Homo sapiens: one gene and its partners. The protein of the gene in region 1 interacts with the protein of each later gene in a pairwise test. Each region holds a gene or a part of one and is shown on either strand. Other genes may lie near its edges.

What was found. The genes of interacting proteins can lie anywhere in the genome.
Region 2: the proteins of GPX8 (region 1) and SLC41A2 interact in binary tests that used the Homo sapiens proteins (3 or more experiments, as listed by UniProt).
Region 3: the proteins of GPX8 (region 1) and SCARB2 interact in binary tests that used the Homo sapiens proteins (3 or more experiments, as listed by UniProt).

What each region holds. Positions count from the first base shown.
Region 1 is NC_000005.10:55,163,171-55,167,797, forward strand, and holds the end of GPX8 (probable glutathione peroxidase 8), read left to right. Parts: intron 1-884; coding exon 885-1,048; 3' UTR 1,049-4,127; downstream 4,128-4,627.
Region 2 is NC_000012.12:104,800,444-104,809,171, reverse strand, and holds the end of SLC41A2 (solute carrier family 41 member 2), read left to right. Parts: intron 1-3,834; coding exon 3,835-4,020; 3' UTR 4,021-7,371; downstream 7,372-8,728. UniProt on the Homo sapiens protein: Acts as a plasma-membrane magnesium transporter. Can also mediate the transport of other divalent metal cations in an order of Ba(2+) > Ni(2+) > Co(2+) > Fe(2+) > Mn(2+).
Region 3 is NC_000004.12:76,174,968-76,183,705, forward strand, and holds part of SCARB2 (lysosome membrane protein 2), read right to left. Parts: intron 6,135-8,738; coding exon 5,987-6,134; intron 4,739-5,986; coding exon 4,550-4,738; intron 1,562-4,549; coding exon 1,470-1,561; intron 944-1,469; coding exon 824-943; intron 1-823.

The sequences.
Region 1 (4,627 bases):
GAGTGGTATAAATAGAAAAAAAATCTACATTTCTTACATAAATTAAGATTTATCAAAAGGATATCATGGCTGGGCATGGTAGCTCATGCATGTAATCCCAGCACTTTGGGAGGCCAAGACAGGAGGATCACTTTAGTGCCCAGGAGTTCAAGCCCATCCCGGGCAACACAGCGAGACCCTGCCAAAAAAAAAGTTATTGCTTTTCAAAATAAGGTGATTATTCACTTTGGGAGGCCAAAACCCTATCTCTACTCAAAATACAAAAATTTGCCTGGTGTGGTGGCACACACCTGTAATCCCAGCAATTTGGGATTACAACTTTGCTTCATTTTTTTTGGCTTTTAATTTTATTTGACACAGAGTTTCACTCTTGTCCCCCAGGCTGGAGGGCAGTGGTGTGGTCTCAGCTCACTGCAACCTCCACCTCCCAGGTTCAAATGATTCTACTGTCTCAGCCTCCCGAGTAGCTGGGATTACAGGTGCACACCACCACACCCGGCTAATTTTTTGTATTTTTAGTAGAGATGGGGTTTCACCGTGTTGGGCAGGCTGGTCTTAAACTCCTGATCTTAGGTGATCCACCCGCCTCAGCCTCCCAAAGTGCTGGGATTACAGACTGAGCCACGGCTCCCAGCCTACTTTGCTTCATTTCTTGATACTAAGATCACATACTAGATGAGTAGACTCATAGGTGAAGTCATCAAGTATATTGAAATCTGGTTACTCTAACCTTGAGTTTCACTTCGTTTGGGTGTTTTGTTTTTTATATTATGACAGTCCTAGAACTTGATACTAAAGTTATCATTTATGCAGATACTAATAGAAGTGAAAATCTTGACAAAGAATAAAATTATGCTCATGAAAATATGTTCTGGATATTTTAGATTCTTCAAAGAAGGAACCAAGGTGGAATTTTTGGAAGTATCTTGTCAACCCTGAGGGTCAAGTTGTGAAGTTCTGGAAGCCAGAGGAGCCCATTGAAGTCATCAGGCCTGACATAGCAGCTCTGGTTAGACAAGTGATCATAAAAAAGAAAGAGGATCTATGAGAATGCCATTGCGTTTCTAATAGAACAGAGAAATGTCTCCATGAGGGTTTGGTCTCATTTTAAACATTTTTTTTTTGGAGACAGTGTCTCACTCTGTCACCCAGGCTGGAGTGCAGTAGTGCGTTCTCAGCTCATTGCAACCTCTGCCTTTTTAAACATGCTATTAAATGTGGCAATGAAGGATTTTTTTTTAATGTTATCTTGCTATTAAGTGGTAATGAATGTTCCCAGGATGAGGATGTTACCCAAAGCAAAAATCAAGAGTAGCCAAAGAATCAACATGAAATATATTAACTACTTCCTCTGACCATACTAAAGAATTCAGAATACACAGTGACCAATGTGCCTCAATATCTTATTGTTCAACTTGACATTTTCTAGGACTGTACTTGATGAAAATGCCAACACACTAGACCACTCTTTGGATTCAAGAGCACTGTGTATGACTGAAATTTCTGGAATAACTGTAAATGGTTATGTTAATGGAATAAAACACAAATGTTGAAAAATGTAAAATATATATACATAGATTCAAATCCTTATATATGTATGCTTGTTTTGTGTACAGGATTTTGTTTTTTCTTTTTAAGTACAGGTTCCTAGTGTTTTACTATAACTGTCACTATGTATGTAACTGACATATATAAATAGTCATTTATAAATGACCGTATTATAACATTTGAAAAAGTCTTCATCATTTTCAGTATTTCTCTCTGCATTATTTTTTAGAAGCAACTCAAATTCTGTAATCATAATATTACCAAGTAAGTCAGTCTTTATTTTTGCGTGAAAATCCCAAGTGTAGAAAAAAGGACATGAGTATAAGATCATTTAACTTGATTCCTTATAGGCTGATTTGGGTTGCTAATGTATTCGTACTAGATTAGCCACTTGGGAGGAATTCAATGCTGCATCATTCTGATAGCTGAAATAGTAAAAGTCAACTCCAAACAGCCTAAATTCTAGTATAAAAAGGGGGTGATCATACAAGTCCTAAAGTGTAGATCAGCAGTCACTGAACCTCTTAGAGTCACAAGGCATTTCTTCTCCCAAAGTCATGACCTTTATATTTTGTTAGCCTTATAATTGACTAACAAAGCAACCTGCCAAGTTGGTGAAGGTTAATTATTGCCTCATGAAATATACATTCATCGCATAAAAGAATTAAATAGGAAGATGGCCAAAAATGTAAAAAAGTCGTATAAATTTGTCTAAGAAGAAAAAGACCCAATTTAAGTAGTCTGTGACTTGACTCCCAAATTCTGACCTGATGGATGAAAGTGAAGATGTTTCGTATGGCAAATTCAGTAATGCTACCTCAGTATATAGTTCTGTATACGTATTTGGACCAAAGTTATTAGATAAACCAAAAATATTTCATGAAGCATCTTCTGCTTCAGAGTCCATATCCAGCCACCCAGCTATGAATGTATTTAGAAAGATATTTGGTGGAGGTGGAATTTCTACCAGAGGTCAAGAGGATTTGTAGGGATAGCCTCAAGAATGCCAGATGAGTGTGTCAGAAAGCCTGCTCCTACCTCTCGCCAGCTGCGTGACTTTAGGCAAGTCACTTAAGTACCTTATTTCAGTTTCCTCACCTGTAAATTGAACAGGGGTTGAATGGAATAAAAAGCCCTTTGCAACTCTAAAAGTCAATTAACACACTTACTAAGGTGTTTTAAGTGACCAGGAAGGAAATCAGAACTAACCTGGATTGTTAGCGAAGAAAACAGAAGCCACCAACAAGCCTATCTGTCCTTTGCAATTTTGCTCCAAGAGCCTATTAGCAATTTGAATTCTGAGCCTCTAAGAAAACTTATGCTCAGGTGGCCCCTCCAAGTGTTGGTGCCAGAGCACTCTTGCCTTGTATCCTCACCTACGCCTTCCATGAACTCATAGCAGTGCTGTGGCACTGCAGGGGTGTTTTATGCATTCACGTTAGGAGCATGAGCAGAACTGCATATGCCAGCACCACATGGGCAGCAGAGACTCCCCACTGCCAGATGGATGATAATGGAGCTGCACTGGGAACAACCAGGACTGTCCCAGTCAACATGATACAGATGAACATCCTGCCTTAAGTCACTAGCTCTCTCCAAAGCCAGATAAAGTGGGTTTCTTCACTTACATCTCTCTAATCTTGGCTGCCTTATTCAACCTACAGACTCTATGTCAGTGCTGGATTTTCTCCCCTTGCCCTTTAGGTAAGCAGAGTAGGCAGGAGGAGATTTGAAAGCGTGTCATACATATTGCCTTGAAAGAAAGGACATTCAGGTGTCCCTTCGGGGTTCTGTAACAATTAGGCTATGTGTGCTGAGAGAGGGAGCGGAGTCATTTGCTGATGTGCTGCTACCTGTAACTCAAATGCCTCATAGGAATACCAGCGGACAAACACATAGAGGAAAAGTTGAATCTTTCCTATATTGGACAATCTTCCTTCAGTCTTGTTTCTGCATCAAAAAGTCTGGGACACAGAGTGCTACAGGATGCCTGGGCTAAGGACTGTAACAGAAAAATATCAACATCAGAGCCTGGCACAGTGGCTCACACCGGTAATCCCAGCACTTTGGGAGGCCGAGGCGGGTGGATCACTTCAGGTCAGGAGTTCGAGACCATCCTGGCCAACATGGTGAAACCCCCATCTCTACTAAAAATACAAAAATTAGCCGGGCACGGTGGCACATGCCTGTAATCCCAGCTACCTGGGAGGCTGAGTCAGAAGAATCACTTGAAAACAGGAGGCTGAGGTTGCAATGAGCCAAGATTGCACCACTGCACTCCAACCTGGGCAACAGAGCGAGACCCCATCTTAAAGACCCTGTCTCAAAAAAGAGAGAAAAAGAAAAAGAAAAATATCAGGCATCACATGAAAGAGTATTCAGCTGTCGTTCTTGTGAAAAAGGAAAAGGACAAAATCAAATGCATTTTAACTGTGGTAACTAATTCACTGACTTGAAGTTTGCTTTGTTTGTTTTCTTTGGTGCGTAGAGAAGAATACTTCATACTAACTCCTGATCATCTTACAGCAGACATAACAACAGAGTGTTAGAGACTGGAATAAATATGAATTTGGCTGAAATGTGCCCTGAAAGTTGTATTTCATTTTTTTAAATGTTTAACAATTACACTGTATCAATAGTATATATACGTGTACATATATATAATTCTTAATAACTGCAGTGTATCTAGCATATATATAATGGTGGCTGGTACATGTTTAATAGCAGACTCTGGAGGAGGAATCCTGACATACAGCATTTGCCAGCTCAATGTAAATGCTCATGCTCCCTCATGGTCAATTTCAATCTACCACTGGTTTAGTAACTAGGATGCAAAATTTCTAAAAATGTGATAATTGGTGATGGGCATGATGGCTCAGGCCTGTAATATCAGCACTTTAAGCAGCTGAGGTGGGAGGATCACTTGAGCCCAGGAGTTAGAGACCAGCCTGGGGCAACATGGCAAAACCCTGTCTCCACAAAAAAAATCAAAAAATTAGCTGGGTGTAGTGGCACATGCCTCAGGTCCCAGCTACATAGGAGGCTGAGGTGGAAGGATTGCTTGAGCCCAAAGAGGTCA
Region 2 (8,728 bases), on another chromosome or scaffold:
TATTGTGTGCCAGGCACTGAATTATTTAGTATATTATTTAATCCTCAGAACATTCTTACAAGGTAAGTACCATTTTAATGTTCATTTGGATATATAGAGTCAGAAAGGTTGAGTAACTTGCCTTCAGTCAGCTAGTAGACAATAGAGAAGGGCTGTAAAGAAGTGCTTTTAACCACTGTGCTATACTTGCCAACTTGTCCAAAACCATGAACATTATCCTTTCTAGTCCCAAATTTATTTTGCTGCTTCAGGGGTTTGAAAATTTAAAAATCCCACAGAAATATGAACTACCATCAGAGAATACTATAAACACCTCTACGCAAATAAACTAGAAAATCTAGAAGAAATGGATAAATTCCTTGACACATACACCCTCCCAGGACTAAACCAGGAAGAAGTTGAATCTCTGAATAGACCAATAACAGGCTCTGAAATTGAGGCAATAATCAATAGCTTACCAACCAAAAAAAGTCCAGGACCAGATGGATTCACAGCCGAATTCCACCAGAGGTACAAGGAGGAGCTGGTACCATTCCTTCTGAAACTATTCCAATCAATAGAAAAAGAGGGAATCCTCCCTAACTCATTTTATGAGGCCAGCATCATCCTGATACCAAAGCTGGGCAGAGACACAACAAAAAAAGAGAATTTTAGACCAATATCCCTAATGAACATCGATGCAAAAATCCTCAGTAAAATACTGGCAAACCGAATCCAGCAGCACATCAAAAAGCTTATCCACCATGATCAAGTGGGCTTCATCCCTGGGATGCAAGGCTGGTTCAACATACACAAATCAATAAACATAATCCAGCATATAAACAGAACCAACGACAAAAACCACATGATTATCTCAATAGATGCAGAAAAGGCCTTTGACAAAATTCAACAATGCTTCCTGCTAAAAACTCTCAATAAATTAGGTATTGATGGGACATATCTCAAAATAATAAGAGCTATCTATGACAAACCCACAGCCAATATCATACTGAATGGGCAAAAACTGGAAGCATTCCCTTTGAAAACTGGCACAAGACAGGGATGTCCTCTCTCACCACTCCTATTCAACATAGTGTTGGAAGTTCTGGCCAGGGCAATCAGGCAGGAGAAGGAAATAAAGGGTATTTAATTAAGGAAAAGAGGAAGTCAAATTGTCCCTGTTTGCAGATGACATGATTGTATATCTAGAAAACCCCATCGTCTCAGCCCAAAATCTCCTTAAGCTGATAAGCAACTTCAGAAAAGTCTCAGGATACAAAATCAATGTGCAAAAATCACAAGCATTCTTATACACCAATAACAGACAAACAGAGAGCCAAATCATGAGTGAACTCCCATTCACAATTGCTTCAAAGAGAATAAAATACCTAGGAATCCAACTTATAAGGGACGTGAAGGACCTCTTCAAGGAGAACTACAAGCCACTGCTCAATGAAATAAAAGAGGATACAAACAAATAGAAGAACATTCCATGCTCATGGGCAGGAAGAATCAATATCATGAAAATGGCCATACTGCCCAAGGTAATTTATAGATTCAGTGCCATCCCCATCAAGCTACCAATGACTTTCTTCACAGAATTGGAAAAAACTACTTTAAAGTTCATATGGAACCAAAAAAGAGCCAGCATTGCCAAGTCAATCCTAAACCAAAAGAACAAAGCTGGAGGCATCACACTACCTGACTTCAAACTATACTACAAGGCTACAGTAACCAAAACAGCATGGTACTGTACCAAAACAGAGATATAGACCAATGGAACAGAACAGAGCCCTCAGAAATAATGCCACATATCTACAACTATCTGATCTTTGACAAACCTGACAAAAACAAGAAATGGGGAAAGGATTCCCTATTTAATAAATGGTGCTGGGAAAACTGGCTAGCCATATGTAGAAGGCTGAAACTGGATCCCTTCCTTACACCTTATACAAAAATTAATTCGAGATGGATTAAAGACTTAAATGTTAGACCTAAAACCATAAAAACCCTAGAAGAAAACCTAGGCAATACCATTCAGGACATTGGCATGGGCAAGGACTTCACGTCTAAAACACCAAAAGCAATGGCAACAAAAGCCAAAATTGACAAATGGGATCTAATTAAACTAAAGAGCTTCTGCACAGCAAAAGAAACTACCATCAGAGTGAACAAGCAACCTACAGAATGGGAGAAAATTTTTGCAATCTACTCATCTGACAAAGGGCTAATAACCAGAATTTACAATGAACTCAAACAAGTTTACAAGAAAAAAACAAACAACCCCATCAACAAGTGGGCAAAGGATATGAACAGACACTTCTCAAAAGAAGACATTTATGCAGCCAAAAGACACATGAAAAAATGCTCATCATCACTGGCCATCAGAGAAATGCAATTCAAAACCACAATGAGATAACATCTCACACCAGTTAGAATGGCAATCATTAAAAAGTCAGGAAACAACAGGTCCTGGAGAGGATGTGGAGAAATAGGAACACTTTTACACTGTTGGTGGGACTGTAAACTAGTTCAACCATTGTGGAAGTCAGTGTGGCGATTCCTCAGGGATCTAGAACTAGAAATACCATTTGACCCAGCCATCCCATTACTGGGTATATACCCAAAGGATTATAAATCATGCTGCTGTAAAGACACATGCACATGTATGTTTATTGCAGCACTAGTCACAATAACAAAGACTTGGAACCAACCCAAATGTCCAACAATGATAGACTGGATTAAGAAAATGTGGCACATATACACCATGGAATACTATGCAGCCATAAAAAAGGATGAGTTCATGTCCTTTGTAGGGACATGGATGAAGCTGGAAACCATCATTCTCAGCAAACTATCGCAAGGACAAAAAACCAAACGCTGCATGTTCTCACTCATAGGTGGGAATTGAACAATGAGAACACATGGACACGGGAAGGGGAACATCACACACCGGGGCCTGTTGTGGGGTGGGGGGAGTGGGGAGGGATAGCATTAGGAGATAAACCTAATGCTAAATGACAAGTTAATGGGTGCAGCACACCAACATGGCACATGTATACATACGTAACAAACCTGCACGTTGTGCACATGTACCCTAAAACTTAAAGTATAGTAAAAAATAAAGTAAAAATAAATAAATAAAGAAAATCCCCCTACTCTAGGTGGATCAAAGAAAAAAACATTTATCTGGTCCCAAAATTCAAAGCTTCACAAAAGTCTTTATATTCCTGATATTCTAGAAAATATTTATATACAGCATCTTCATGTTTGAATAATCTTTTAAAATATTTCCATTTTATGTATATATCTATCTATAACTACATAGATGAGCCATTTCTAAATGCATTTACCTTCTAGTTATTGGTCTTACTACTGCACTGAAATTTTCCTTGACAAGTCAAAAATGGCCTTATAATTAGTAAACGAATGGTCAGTTTTCCATCTTTATTTGATATACCTGCAGCAGGAGACTGTTAAATAATTCCTTATTTAAATTTTTATTTCCTTCTTCATAATGTCTTCCTTTTTCACAGGTTTATCACATAGAAAAACAGTCTTTTGGAAACTGTACAGTGCTATTAAAATATCCAAATTATTATGGCTATTGGGAGGCTAGAATGAGATCTATATGAAAAGTTGAAGAAAAATTTTAGTACCTGTAAACATACATGCTGTTTTTTTTCTTGTGAAATGAAAGTATTCTTGTCATCTAAGTATTTCTTATTTTCAAGCATGGTTCTTGACTTAGACACATACGGTCCCTTCCAGAAGCCAGTGGTTTAGGCTTGTGGCCATGTTTCATGGGCTAGGAATGTCCAGGCAGCCGGAGTAATCTCTGTTGTTCTCTTCTAGGTATTTACCTTGCTGTGGATTGCTGACTGGATGGTCCATCACTTCTGGAGGAAAGGAAAGGACCCGGATAGTTTCTCCATCCCCTACCTAACAGCATTGGGTGATCTGCTCGGGACAGCTCTGTTAGCCTTAAGTTTTCATTTTCTTTGGCTTATTGGAGATCGAGATGGAGATGTTGGAGACTAATAAATTCTACAAACTGCTCTCAAGTTACCAAGGAAGAAAATACACGACAACCACTTATGGCTCTTTTTCAAAACTCTTAAATCAGTAGTTTGACTTTTGCCAGGGTAATCTTCAGTTGGCCCTGATTCAATTAAATGGCCTTAATTTTTTTTTAAGGAATTTGTGTCAAAACCAGAATGAAGAGTATTCGTGCTGCTTTTCATAGAATAAATGATAATTTGACATAGACATAGATATAAGTTCCAGCTCTGAAATTAATTAGGAAAGAATATAGGATGTTTACAGTGAATAATTTTAAAACCACAAACATAGCAGAAATGTACTTTATTATTAAATTTGTAATGCAGGATTAGAAGAAGCAGAGCTCTAGTTTAGCCTTTCTTGTCTCACAGATGTGCTGTATCCCAGGCATACTATAAAACGAAGAGTGCCCAACCAAGCTTTGAATCGTATTAACAATGCCCACCTCTATGCTAGCTGAGGATAAATTTACCAGTTGCTCATATTTAAACTGACCTAAATATGTTTTGCTGAGCATAAGATAAACTCACTTTTACCTCCATCTAAAATTATCCTGTTCTGATGCCAATTCAATTTCAGCTCTGCAAGTTCTTGTCAGGCTAATCTTTAAACATTGAGTGATCTTGAGAGATTGTTAATGAAAGCAGTGAGTCATTTTTTGATGATTGATTTGTTGGAAAAATGTTGATGTGTTTTAAAAAATGTAATCTTCAAAAACAGAATATAACCTGAGATGCATTTGTAGAGACAAGACGGTACGAGAATGTGTGTGTGTGTGTGTGTGAGAGAGAGAGACTTTTGATGAAGAACTAAATCTTGGATTGCTGATAGCAAAGATCATAGTGCTGTTGGAATATCAGCAATATAGAGTTATTCTTAAACACATTCTATTAACATGTTTTTGTCATTGGGTCCAAAAATTTTGCTGCTGACCAGAATTTACTATTTGTTACCTATATTCTTTTTTTTTTTTTTTTTTTTTTTTTTTGAGACAGAGTCTTGCTCTGTCGCCCAGGCTGGAATGCAGTGGTGTGATCTCGGCTCACTGCTACCTCCACCTCCTGGATTCAAGTGATTCTCCTGCCTCAGCCTCCCGAGTAGCTGGGATTACAGGAATGCGCCACAACGCCCAGCTAATTTGTTACCTACACTCTAATTAATAATTAATAATTTCTTATTTTAAAAAGTAGTACTATTTAATATAATCAAGATAGGAGATTTAAAATGAGCAAGTGATTCATTTGCTCTTTTAAAGAAGCCCGTTGACTTACGCTTTTAAAAAAGAAGTTGGTGGGTTACCTCAATTATTGTTCATGCTTAAACATATCCATTTGTACAGGCTTATTTCTACGTGGGACCCAATCATATATACTATATTTCTCAAATAATTTTTCTAAAACTCTGGCCTATATTCTAAACACTTGACCAACACCTTAGTTATTGAATAGGTAACCATTTTTAAAGTACATGTGGTTCATTTTTTAAAATTCAATCTCTCAAGACCGTTAGATATTTAATAATTTAAGCTGATAAGGGTATCAAAATGCACATTAACTTTGATCATCATGATTTAAGTTGTAACTTTGTGTTATTATATAAATATTAGGTTGTTTATAAATATATTGCAGAAAGTATTCTTGTTAAGCTCTTTTAAATGAGGGGACTGTGGTTTAGAGTTATATATTTTTGCTTATTTTTAAACTTCAATTATTCCATTCTTCTGCCTTATAATAAAACTTTTAAGGCAGAGAACTGAACTAATTATAGAATTTCTCCTTTGGAGAGTTATAATGTTACATAGTGAACATTCTTATAAAAGAAAGAATAAGTTTAAGTTGATGAATATTTAGCTGCAAAGATTTTTTACTTAAAAAAATCCATGAATATCTTTGATTTTATTATAAAGCATTTGTAAATTATTTGCATTTGAGCTGTAAGATTCATAAACATTTACATTTCCCAATGATTTCTATTTTGATTTTTAAAAAATATACAGGGCAAGCTACATTTTTAAAGCATTAATCAACAACTTTATTATATTACACATTCCAGTGCACAAACACACAATATCATTTAATACTCACAGTAGTACCTGTGAAATATATCAGATGGATATTCCTATCTCTATTTTACAGCAGAGGAAACCGAAATTCAGAGAACTTACATTTCTAAGGTTGTACAGCTGCAAAATGACCAAATTGTGAAGTCCCTAACATCCAGGTTTTCATAATGCCAGTACTCTTTCTATGACATGTTTATGACCCTCCAAATGTACCAAAACTACCTAACTAATTCACTGAGAGGAAGCCAACTGCAAAAATAGGATTTTTAAAAGTACAATAGAGTATTACTACATTTTATGGATTTCAGACAAAGAAACCTCCGTTTATTATATCCTGATGGTGAGTATTGCCAGCTCTAAATTATTCATATTTCTAAGACCAAGGAAAATATAGGTAAATGAAAATTTTGAAATAAAGAACAATGCCTTAATTTGTAAAATCTATCATTGCTACCACCCTGCCCAGGTCTGGCCATTTGCCATAAATGCTGGTAAATAAATACAATGACTGATAGAGTTCTGTCTCCTTTCTCTTTTGCTACCCAACCTTGGTTAGAGCAACCAAATGTCTAAAAGGCATGTAACAGGAGAAAAAAATAAAAACATTAGTCACCAATTCGCCGATTATAAAAGGGATGTAGATTCCTTTAAATTATTACTGACCTTTTGAAAGCCTTCACGTAAGTATGCAACAGATAAAATGACTCATTTACCCACAACAATAATCTATTATCAGTCTTAAGTAATGTGAATTCACTGTATTTCTTTTTATACAACATAAAAACTTCTGCTTTCCAAACTTCTTCCTTTTCACTAATTTATCAGCCACTTTATTTATACACAGATAACACTTTTAGAAACATTTTTCTTTCTTGTCCATTTTTTTCTTTCAAAAATAAAGTTTCTTAGAACCTGATAAAATGGAAACTTATGGTAATATGTGTTCTGGTAGGTGTCCAAAAATTCCACACCATAGACTATCAATGATATAGCCAAATAAAGGCCATTCAAAAAAATCAGTAATTGGGATTCCTTGCCTTATATCTATGGTATAGTGTACCCATTTATAACGGGGTTCTGCCATCTTCGAATTGTTTTAAACTCAAATAAAGAATAAAATTTAAGAAATAATTATCCAGTCTTGTTATGCTTACTTCTTGATGAACTAGAGAACATCAAGCCAGTGTGGAAATCTCCCAGAAGAGACTGGGGTAATTTATGTATACATATGATATTTATGAATTATAATAAATTGGGCTTTGACCATATCTAGACCTCCAATGCATTGCTTTACTACTTTTTGACTGTCAAATACTCTCCTCATTTCTTCACTCCTCTCATTATCCAGCTTACATTGCTTGGTTCATCAGTCCATACATCTGCAACTGCCTCTCTCATGCTGGCAGGACAGAATACAAACTCTGGATAAAGACAGCTCTCTGTGTTTTGCCTGTACCTGAGTGCTCAATATGGCTCATGAAAAACACACAACTCCTCTGACAGATCTTTAAATTTATAACCTCAGACATCAAGTTAACCCCCAACTGCCCAGCAACCTACTCTGTTTCTCTAATGACTTTACTTTCTGAGAGACAGGTCTTTGTCCCCAGCACTTTACTGAAAGCAAACTTGTTGTCAACCTAAATAGTAAACAGAGAGAAGGTTTCTAAAAGAAAATGATATTCAGGAATAGGCATTGCAATGGGAATACACGTGCCACAGTGTTCCCACTGCATATGAACTACCTGCATATTCAGGGAGGTAAAGGAAGGAGGAGGTTTTTAAAGAAGGATTACAAATTATTTTGAGATAATTATCCTTGGCTACAAGGATCGACAGCAAGCATAACGCCAGTCTGAGGTTGAACAGGTGTTTGCTGGGCGGATATTCTCACAGAAGTATTTTTTGTGTGTAAGGTTGCAATGGCCATTGTACAAGGTTGTGGTTTTTGCAGAGTCTTTTGTGATGGTTTTTGTTACTGGGCATTTATGCATGAGAAACCTTTCTTCATGGCCTTCTCTGGCTCTATTTGTCAGAGTTTTATTAACACAAGTGACTCCATTATGTTTCTGACAAGTTTCACATTTCCCCCTTTTGATCAAGATATTTCTCCAAAAGCATCACTGACCAATCATCCTGTATTCAGGTGTTGATAGCTCCTGATGCCAGGATGGGCCCGTCCTGGGTTGCTGATCTGGTCCTATGTTAGAGAAAGTGAATGGTGGCTAGGAGTCCGTGTCAAAACCCTATTATCCACGTTTGAGCAACAAGGGAGGTTTGAAGGGAGTGGATCTCAGGCTAAGTCTACCTGGAGTCCATTATTAAGTTCAATTTTTTCTGTTCCATAGTCGTTTGCTGTTATCTCAAAGTGCTGGGCCAGCATTGTTCTGTTAGGAGTTCTACTTCTGCAAAAATTTAACAAGTAATAGTGCAAACTTTAAAAAGGAAATAATAGTAATTTGAAAATCCCTGTTTGCATAATGGTTTTGAGCTGTGAATCTAGGCTTAAAGACAACTATTTGAATGAAACAAATGACCATAGGGAATTAGGTAAGACCTGTTGTAACCATGTGGCTATGTTTTTATTTTGCTTATATGGGTTTCAACTTTCCCAGAGGGATTTAT
Region 3 (8,738 bases), on another chromosome or scaffold:
ACCACTGAGCCTTCAGCCCTTCCTTTGAAGGCTGGCCGGAAGAGCCTTCTGGGCCTCACTTTTTCATCTCTGAACCAGAGCTGTTGATACATCTCTCGCAAGGTTGTGAATAACATAGGTGGTTTCACTGCACAAACCAAACCACCCCTACAGCATTTTTTAATGAAAAATTTTAGGCACCAGAAAGAGATAAAATACTCTAACAAATACCTTTGTATCTGCCACTTAGACAAATAAAAATTATATTATGGATATAACTGAACCTGTCTACGTAATGCTCTTGATTCCATTCCTTCTCTGCCTCCCCTGAGGAAACCACTCTGCTGAAATATGGACAACAGTATCTTTTATTTGGCTTCCATGTAGAGACTACCTATTGACTGGAAGTAGACCAGGTCAGTTGATGCTTGACAGAGCATATCATAGTAACTAAGAGCCAACACTTAATATTGGTTACTGTGTGATGGGCCCTGGGCTAAGTATTTGACTAATACTAACTCATTTGTCCTCATAACAACCTCTAACATAGTTAACAATTTCTATCTTTGTTTTACAAATAAGGAAAGTGAGGTACAGAGTGGTTAAGTAATTTGCCCAAGGTCACACAGCTATAAGTGGTAGAGCCAAGATTCAAACCAACAGTCAGAAGTCTGTGCTGTGAACCAGTACACTATACTGTCTCGATGTGCCATCAGCATTTATCACTGATTATGCATAAATATCCATGCATAATAAGTGTGTCTGCATATATTCCTCATGCTTTTGGTGGTCTTGCAGTGAAAGACCTTATTTTTGAAAAAGAACTTATCTTTAAAGCTTTTACCTGCAAAAGTCAGATGGGAAGACATAAAGGACCTCATCTTTGGTTATTAGTGGGTGAAAAGAATCTCCATCTGTTCCATTAATCATATTGCACTTGTCTGTTATCCACCAGTCAAGTGACCTATAATTGATAAGCACAAGAAAGAGTAAAGATGATCACATTTGAGTTTAGATTCTCTTAAATGGTCAGGACTTTGCAAGATTTAACTGGAGCTGTCTATCCACAGTATCTTATTCATACACAGACACAACAGTTTTAATTAGATCAAGGGGGAGAAAAAGTAGGTCCCTGGCCCAAATCAGCTTTCATAGAGGCAATGGCCAAATAGCCCAAAACATGTGGTGGTTTGAAAAGTATTTGTGCTGTAGCTACTACACATCACTCAATGACTACTAAGCAAGAGTGGGACTTTTCACTGGCCTGTAATTCATGCCTGGCCATGATAAATCTACAAATCACTAATATTTAATCTGTAAGATGTTTTACCACCATCTTGATTTGTAGAATAATAATTACAAGACTATTTACATGTTTTTATATTTTTCATCCAAAAAAGGCTAAACACATTTTTAAGCAATGTAGAAGTAGACATGTAGTTTAAATGAAAACTGAAAAAATAATTCCACTGATAAATCATTTGACTTACGTTTTCCCATTCCATTCCACAATTTTTGTAAAGTTAAGGTAACTGTCTTCTCCAGTTAGAAAAACATAGTCTCCATCATTAGTCCCATTTTTCTGAAAATATGTGAATATGATCATTTAAAGTAACTGTGATAATTTTATGACAACTTGGCTAGACTATGGTGCCCAGTTGTTTGGTCAAACACTAGCCCAGATGGTGTGGTGAAGGTATTTTGTAGGTGTGATTAATATCTACAATCCGTTAACTTTAAGGGAGGTTACCCTCAATAATGAGTGGCTGGGCCCCCTCCAATCTGTTCAAAGCCTTACAAGCAAAAACAGAGGTTTCTTAGAGGAGGAATTCTCCTCAAGACTGCAACATCGAAATTCTGCCTGGATTTCCAGGTTGCAGCCCACCCTACAGATTTCAAACTCAAGACCACATCATCAACTTTTACCTGAGTTTCCAGCTGCTGGCCTGCTCTATGGATTTCAGACTTACCAGCTCCCATAATCACATAAGCCAATTCCATAATATAAATTTCTTTCTCTCCCTCTTTCTCATCTCTACATATACACCCTCTTGATTCAGTTTCTCTGGCAACCCTAACTGATACAGTAACTAAAAAATTTAATCTTCATCTAACTGTCCTACTAGGGCCTAACTGCTACACAAGACTGAACCAGGACCAGAAAATAGTGACTATTTTGCTAAATACTATATTAACCATATTATTATTTTATGGTTTTAAAAAGTAGGAGCTCAATTTTAAAATGGGCAAAGGATTTGAAGAGACATTTCTGAAAAGAAAATATACTAATGGCCAGAGAGCACATAAAAACATGTTCAGCATCATTAGTCATTAGGGAAATGCAAATCAAAACCACAATGAGATACCACTTCACACCCACTAGGAGGGCAATTAAAAAAAAAAAAAAGAAAAATAGTAAGCGTTGGTGAGGATGTGGAGAAATTGGAACCTTTATACATTGCTAGCAGGAATATAAAAATGTTGCAGTCACTGCAGAAAACAGTTTGTCAGTTCTTAACAAAGTTAAACAGAATTCATAGGACTCCAAAATTCCACACCTATGTATATACTCAAGAGAATTCCACTTCAAGGTATATACCCAATGTTCATATAAAAGCTTGTATGAACAAATATTCATAGCAGCACTTCTAATAATAGCCAAGAAGGAACACAACCCAAATGTCCATCAACTGATAAATGGATAAGCAAAATGTGGTATATCTACACAACGGAATATTCCTCAGTTATAAAAAGGAATGGAACACTGATACATGCTACAACATGGATGAACCCTGACAACATTACACTAAATTTAAAAAGCAGACACAGAAGGGCATATATTATATGACTCCATTTATATGAGATGTCCAGAATATGCAAATTCACAGAGCCAGAAAGTAGATTAGTGGTTGCCAGGGCCTGGGAGAGTAAGACAGGAATAGGAGTGACTGCTAAGAGAGTATGCAGTTTCTTTTTTGGGATAATGAAAATGTTCTGGAATTAGCAGTAATGGTTGCACAACCTTGTGACTATACTAAGGACTACTGAATTGTACATTTTAAAATGGTAAATGTTATAGTAAGTGAATTATTTCTCAATAATAACAAATTTAAAAGCCTAAGTCCAGGACCAGGACCAATTATACCAGAATAGCTACACTGGAAGAAGACGGTATTAATATAGCCCTATTTTCAATTAAGGTTTCTTCAATTGTATATTCTCTCCAAGTTATACTTCTTAAGGGCACATACAGACACTACATTCCTAAAATTCTTTATTTGGGCATGTAGCTATGATTTCTCAGAAATAGCACAGGTAGTAGCTCCTCTATAATAATAGGAGTGAACAATTGTTGAGTATAATATTCCTGGCTCTGTTCTAAAATTTTTGCATGAATCATCTCATGAAATCCTCACAACCACATAAGATAGTGTGGCTATCAGTCTGGTGAATTCAATGATGTAAAAACAAAAAAAGTGAGTTATATAATGCAAATTATCTGAGAAACAGTGAGATATTAGCAACAAGATCTACTTGGCTGATGGATTGAAGCCACTGGGAACAAAAGGGCCTCGAGGGAACCTTTGCATAATATCTCTCAGTAGGAGGCTCTCCTGAAATTATTTCTAGAAGGGAGGTTCAGTCAGGGCTTGACAGGAAATCTGTGCTTCCTCTGGTCCTGTGAAGCTGTATTCCTCTGAGACAGGACCCTCTAGGGAACTCCTGCCTGGTCTGCTTCTCCCGAATGATGCATTCAGAGTTGGTGAGGCCCTACTTTTAGGACTCCTGTCTCTCACACATATAATTTTTTAAAACTTGCTCACAATTCTATTTTAACAATTTCTACGTTTTATATAACCTTGAAGGCCCAGGGACACAATTATTGCTGTTTGCCATAAAAACTGGAATGCTACAGGATTACATGAAGAGGGTAAGACTCTTGAACAGGCAGAGCCAGAAAACAGCTACAAATTTAAAGCTGAGGAGACCCATCACAATCCCAGAGCACACCCCTAATCTAATCCTCTTCCTGGGGTTATTTTATCTTTTACCAACTTCCCAACTATCCACTGCACTCCAGGGTTTTTGTTTTTGTTTTTGTTTTTGTTTTTTTTTTGGCTTTTTTAGACAGAGTCTTGCTCTGTCACCCTGGCTGGAGTACAGTGGTGTAATTTCAGCTCACTGCAACCTCTGCCTCCTGGGTTCATGCAACTTACCTGCCTCAGTCTCCTGAGTAGGTGAGATTACAGGTGTACATCACCACAGCTGGCTAATTTTTGTATTTTTAGTAGAGATAGAGTTTTGCCATGTTGGCCAGGCTGGTCTCAAAGTCTTAACCTCAAATGATCCACCCACCTCGGTCTCCCAAAGTCCTGGAATTACAGGCATTAGCCACCGCACCCGGCCTCAAGTTTTTTTTCTTTCCAAAAAACACTCCATTTTTCACACACTCTATAAGATAACTTAACTCTAGGCAATTTCTAGAAGAAACTCAAAGTTAATCTGGCTTGGGGTGCCCCAACCCACTGTCAGCTAAAAAAAGAGGTTCTGAAAAGAAAAATCTACTTACCTCATAGAATAGGCCAAAATAGGGAGAGATATCGGGCCTGAAAACATGGATAAGGGACAAGATTTCATCTTTGTAGCCCCAGAGCAATTCGTCAACTGTGTGAGTCACAAAGAGCTTCTGCTGATAGGCTTTCAACATGGCCTCGATGATCTCCCTGAGGAAGTGCACCTGGGACCACTCTATGACAGTCTGCGGAGCAGAGGTATATTAAGACAGCAGCATCCCCTCCAAAGCACCTCCATCCACTCTCTCCTACTACCCCATAGCAAAGGGGGTTGGAAATATAAATGTAAAGGTTGAGATTAAATAGCTGAAAAATCAGGCAGTGAGCTCCTTTCTGGCTGCATATGGAAGACAAAGCCTCTTCTCTGTCCTTTCCCAGTACTGCATTTTGTAAGTGTAATATTTACAAAGAGACCATTTGCAGGCTCTGAGTTATCCAGACACCACAAAAGGGGAAAAGCTCTTGTAAACATGTGGGCATCTTTGGCCACAAGGTGGCGCTACCTTCCGCCTAAGCAGGGCCAGAGGCTCATTATAAACCCGACCTACACCCCTGGGACTAGGTGGCAGGGACCTCATACTGTCTAGGTCCTGGGTCCATCATCAGTGTCCAGCTGCATATGGAGCGGTCACCTAGGGGTTAGGGTGGGAGAGTCGGCAGGGGTTGGTGTAGGTGAATTAGAATGTTTACTGGGCCAGCCCAGGAACAGTGGTTCACGCCTGGAGTCCCTGGCCGACACAGGAGGATCCCTGGAGCCCAGGAGGTAGAAGCTTCAGTGAGCTGTGATGGAGCCACTGACTGCACTCCAGCCTGGGCGACAGAGCAAGACCCTGTCTCAAAAAAAATTAATAATAAATAAATTAATTTAATTTAAAAAAAAAGAAAGTCTCATGGGTCTCAGTATAGAATAGATGTAGAATAGGTGTCGTTATTAGGTAGAATTACCATTATAAACAGAGCCCACTGAAATCACAGTAGGCTGCCAGTCTATTGATTTCTGGTGTCAATTTATGAATTTTGAGAGTATAAAATCCAACATAAAAATCTGAAGTAAGAAATGGTATACAAATTTCATTGCTAGAATTTCTGAATGAAAACAAGGGGCAAATAAACATTTTTAAAATTATTAGCTACCAAAAAATCCTAGGGGCATATTTATTTGCACAATTGCTAATCCTGAACACCCAGGAAGAAATTATGAAAACAAATCCTAAAATCTGAATTTTGTCATCATTTGAAAAGACCTTATTTGATACATCTTAGAAAAAAGTCCAAGATGTACTTTAAAGAAAAGAAAAGAAGTATTTTTCTTTTTATATATGTATATTTCAACATAACTTAATGGCTCCTAAATGTAAAATCATAAAGAGCATTAACTTAGCTTTTTCCTTTCTTCCAAAATCCAACTTAATGGTATTAAAATGCCTACTTACCAATACAGGAATATTTAATGTTCTAATTAAGTCAATTTTAGGGTCTCCAACAGATTGGTCTCGTTCAAAAACATAGGCCTTGTTGCTAACAGCAGATATTGTTGTTCCATTATCTCCAAATTGAATATTTGCTTTGTTTCTGAGTTCCCTAAAAGAAAGAAAAGGGTTTTATTTGAAAATAGACACCACTTTAATAAGCAAGACTTTTCCTTTCTTTCAGCATCCAAGTTATATTTTCAATATAACATTCCCAATATAACATTATATAGAGACTGCAGCTACTAAGCCTTAAAAAGCTGGAGATCGAAGCTATAATGTGGGAAGGAAACGAGGCCTAGGATAGAGTCTTCTCAAAAACTTTGTTTTCCTTCTTTTCTTCCCTGATTAGGGAGGTGCAATAGTTGAGGGTCACCTTGACCGGGAATCAAAGCCGATGAACTCTCTCCTGGGTTATGGTTTGGTCCTGAAGTATTTTCAAAATTTTCAGTTTGGTTCACAGATTTAGTTTGAATTTCAATTTGTTTACCAATGTCTTCTTGTTTCTACATTGAATTAAATTGAAATTTTATTTTAAAAAATAATGCCCAAGGCTTAGTAAATTACAGGAGTTCACTCCTGTTTCTTTTTTTGAGATAGGGTCTCGCTCTGTTGCCCAGGCTGGAGTGCAGTGGCATGACTACAGCTCACTGCAGCCTCAGCCTCCTGGGCTCAAACAATCCTCCCACCTCAGCCTCCCAAGTAGCTAGAAGTACAGAAGCATGCCACCACACCCAGCTAATTGTTTTATTTTTTTGTAGAGATGAGGTCTTACTATGCTACCCAGGCTGGTCTTGAACTCCTGGACTCAAGTGATCCTCCTGCCTCGACCTTCCAAAATGCTGGCATTACAGGCATGAGCTACCACACCCGGTCTCTGTTTCTGATATACAGCACAGTTTGGTTCAAGTTAGAGCCCCCAAATGAAGCATTAGAAAGTTCTTAGAAAGCGCCTGGTGCCAGGGCTGGGCCTAGAGTCAGTGTGAGTGATGTAAGAGGTGCCTAAACAAGTAGTAATCAAGATAAATAGTTTAATGCACTATTTATTAAAACCAAAATTTATGCCAAAAATTTATGATGAACAAAATTTTAAATAAAAACAGAATCTGATCTTTTGTTCATCAAATGCCTCACACTAGCCCTAGCCCTAGCCCTGCCTGGTACATAGTAGGTGTTCAATAAATTCCAGTGACTTTTGTTTCTTTCCCTTTGCTTATCTTTCCTTCTTCCTAAACCAGCTAGGGTTATTATGTCTGACATGGTAGCCACTAGTCACATGTGACTACTGAGTACTTAAACTGTGGCTAACTGGAATTGAGATTTGCTGTAAGTGTAAAATATATACAGAATTTCAAAAACAGTGCCAACCTTTTTTTATATTGATTATATATTGAAATGATGCTATTTCAGTTATAATGGGTAAAATTAAAATATATTATCAAAATTAATTTTACCTGCTTCCTTCTACTTTTTAAAAAATGTGGCTACTAGAAAATCTTAAAATCTTAAATTACACATGTGGTTCATGTAATATTTCTATTGAACAGAGCTAATTTAAGAGCACAGGTTAGGAAGGCATTGGCCAGCTGGGCTACCCACACCTCCTCTGAGGCCTTTCCCAACCATAGCAGCACAGGGATTTTTCTCACCCACCTGTGGATGTCCGTACATGTCTTTAGCATTCAATTAGAAACTTCTGAGTGACATCATTTAGATTGTGAAATTATCATGTAGCCTCAGGTAGACTGCAAGCAAGCTGAAGGCTGAAACTGGTACGTAAAAATGCGCCTCGGTGATGATGGAGTTATGTCCCAGTAAACCCATCATAAGTTGAAAACATCGTAAGTTGAAAGTTTGTTTTTGATTCAACAACTTAGTATCTTTCCAATTTACAATGGGTTTATCTGGATGTAACTCTATCGTCATTGGAGGGGCATGCCAAATACATCACTTTCACACAATCGCGAAGTCAAAACATCATTCAAGTTGAACCATCATAAGTCAAGGACTGTCTGTATATTGTATCTCTTTATACCTCTTAAATCCCTTCTAGACTTTAAAATAAAAACAGATGAGAAAATAAATGCATTCATATAGATGCATACAAATAGATGAGTCTTTGTATCTTCTCCAGTAGAAAAAACAAACCATTTTTTTCTGTGCTCTCATACTGTAACAACTTACACAGAAGACTTCTAAGACTTCTGAGACTTCTGGTCACCAAGAAGTGTGTGGCGTTTTCTCTGCACCAATAATTCTGCAGTGTCCTCCAATTCAATTCAATTCTGATACTTTCTACTTGGACATAGCATCAGATTCTACAGGTTGAGACTGCCTTCCACCTCCTATGCCAATCAAAAGCCCCAGGCTGTTTTACCTGTGCTTCTGAACTAATGGCTATAAATTGGGGTTCCCATCCCCCTGTGCTTGGGCTCAATTAATTTGCTAGAACAGCCCAGAGTACTCAGGGAAACACTTACATTTTATTATAAAGGATATTACAAAGTATACAGATGAAGAGATGCACTGGGCAAGGTGTAGGGGAAGGAGCTCAGAACTTCCATGCCCTCTGCAGGCTCGCTACTCTCCAGGAACCTCCCCATGTTTGGTTCTCTGGAAACTCTCCAAATTCAGTCCTTTTGGTTTTTTATGGAAGCTACATTACATAGGCATGATTGATTAAATCACTGGCCATTTGTGATCAACCCAACTTTCA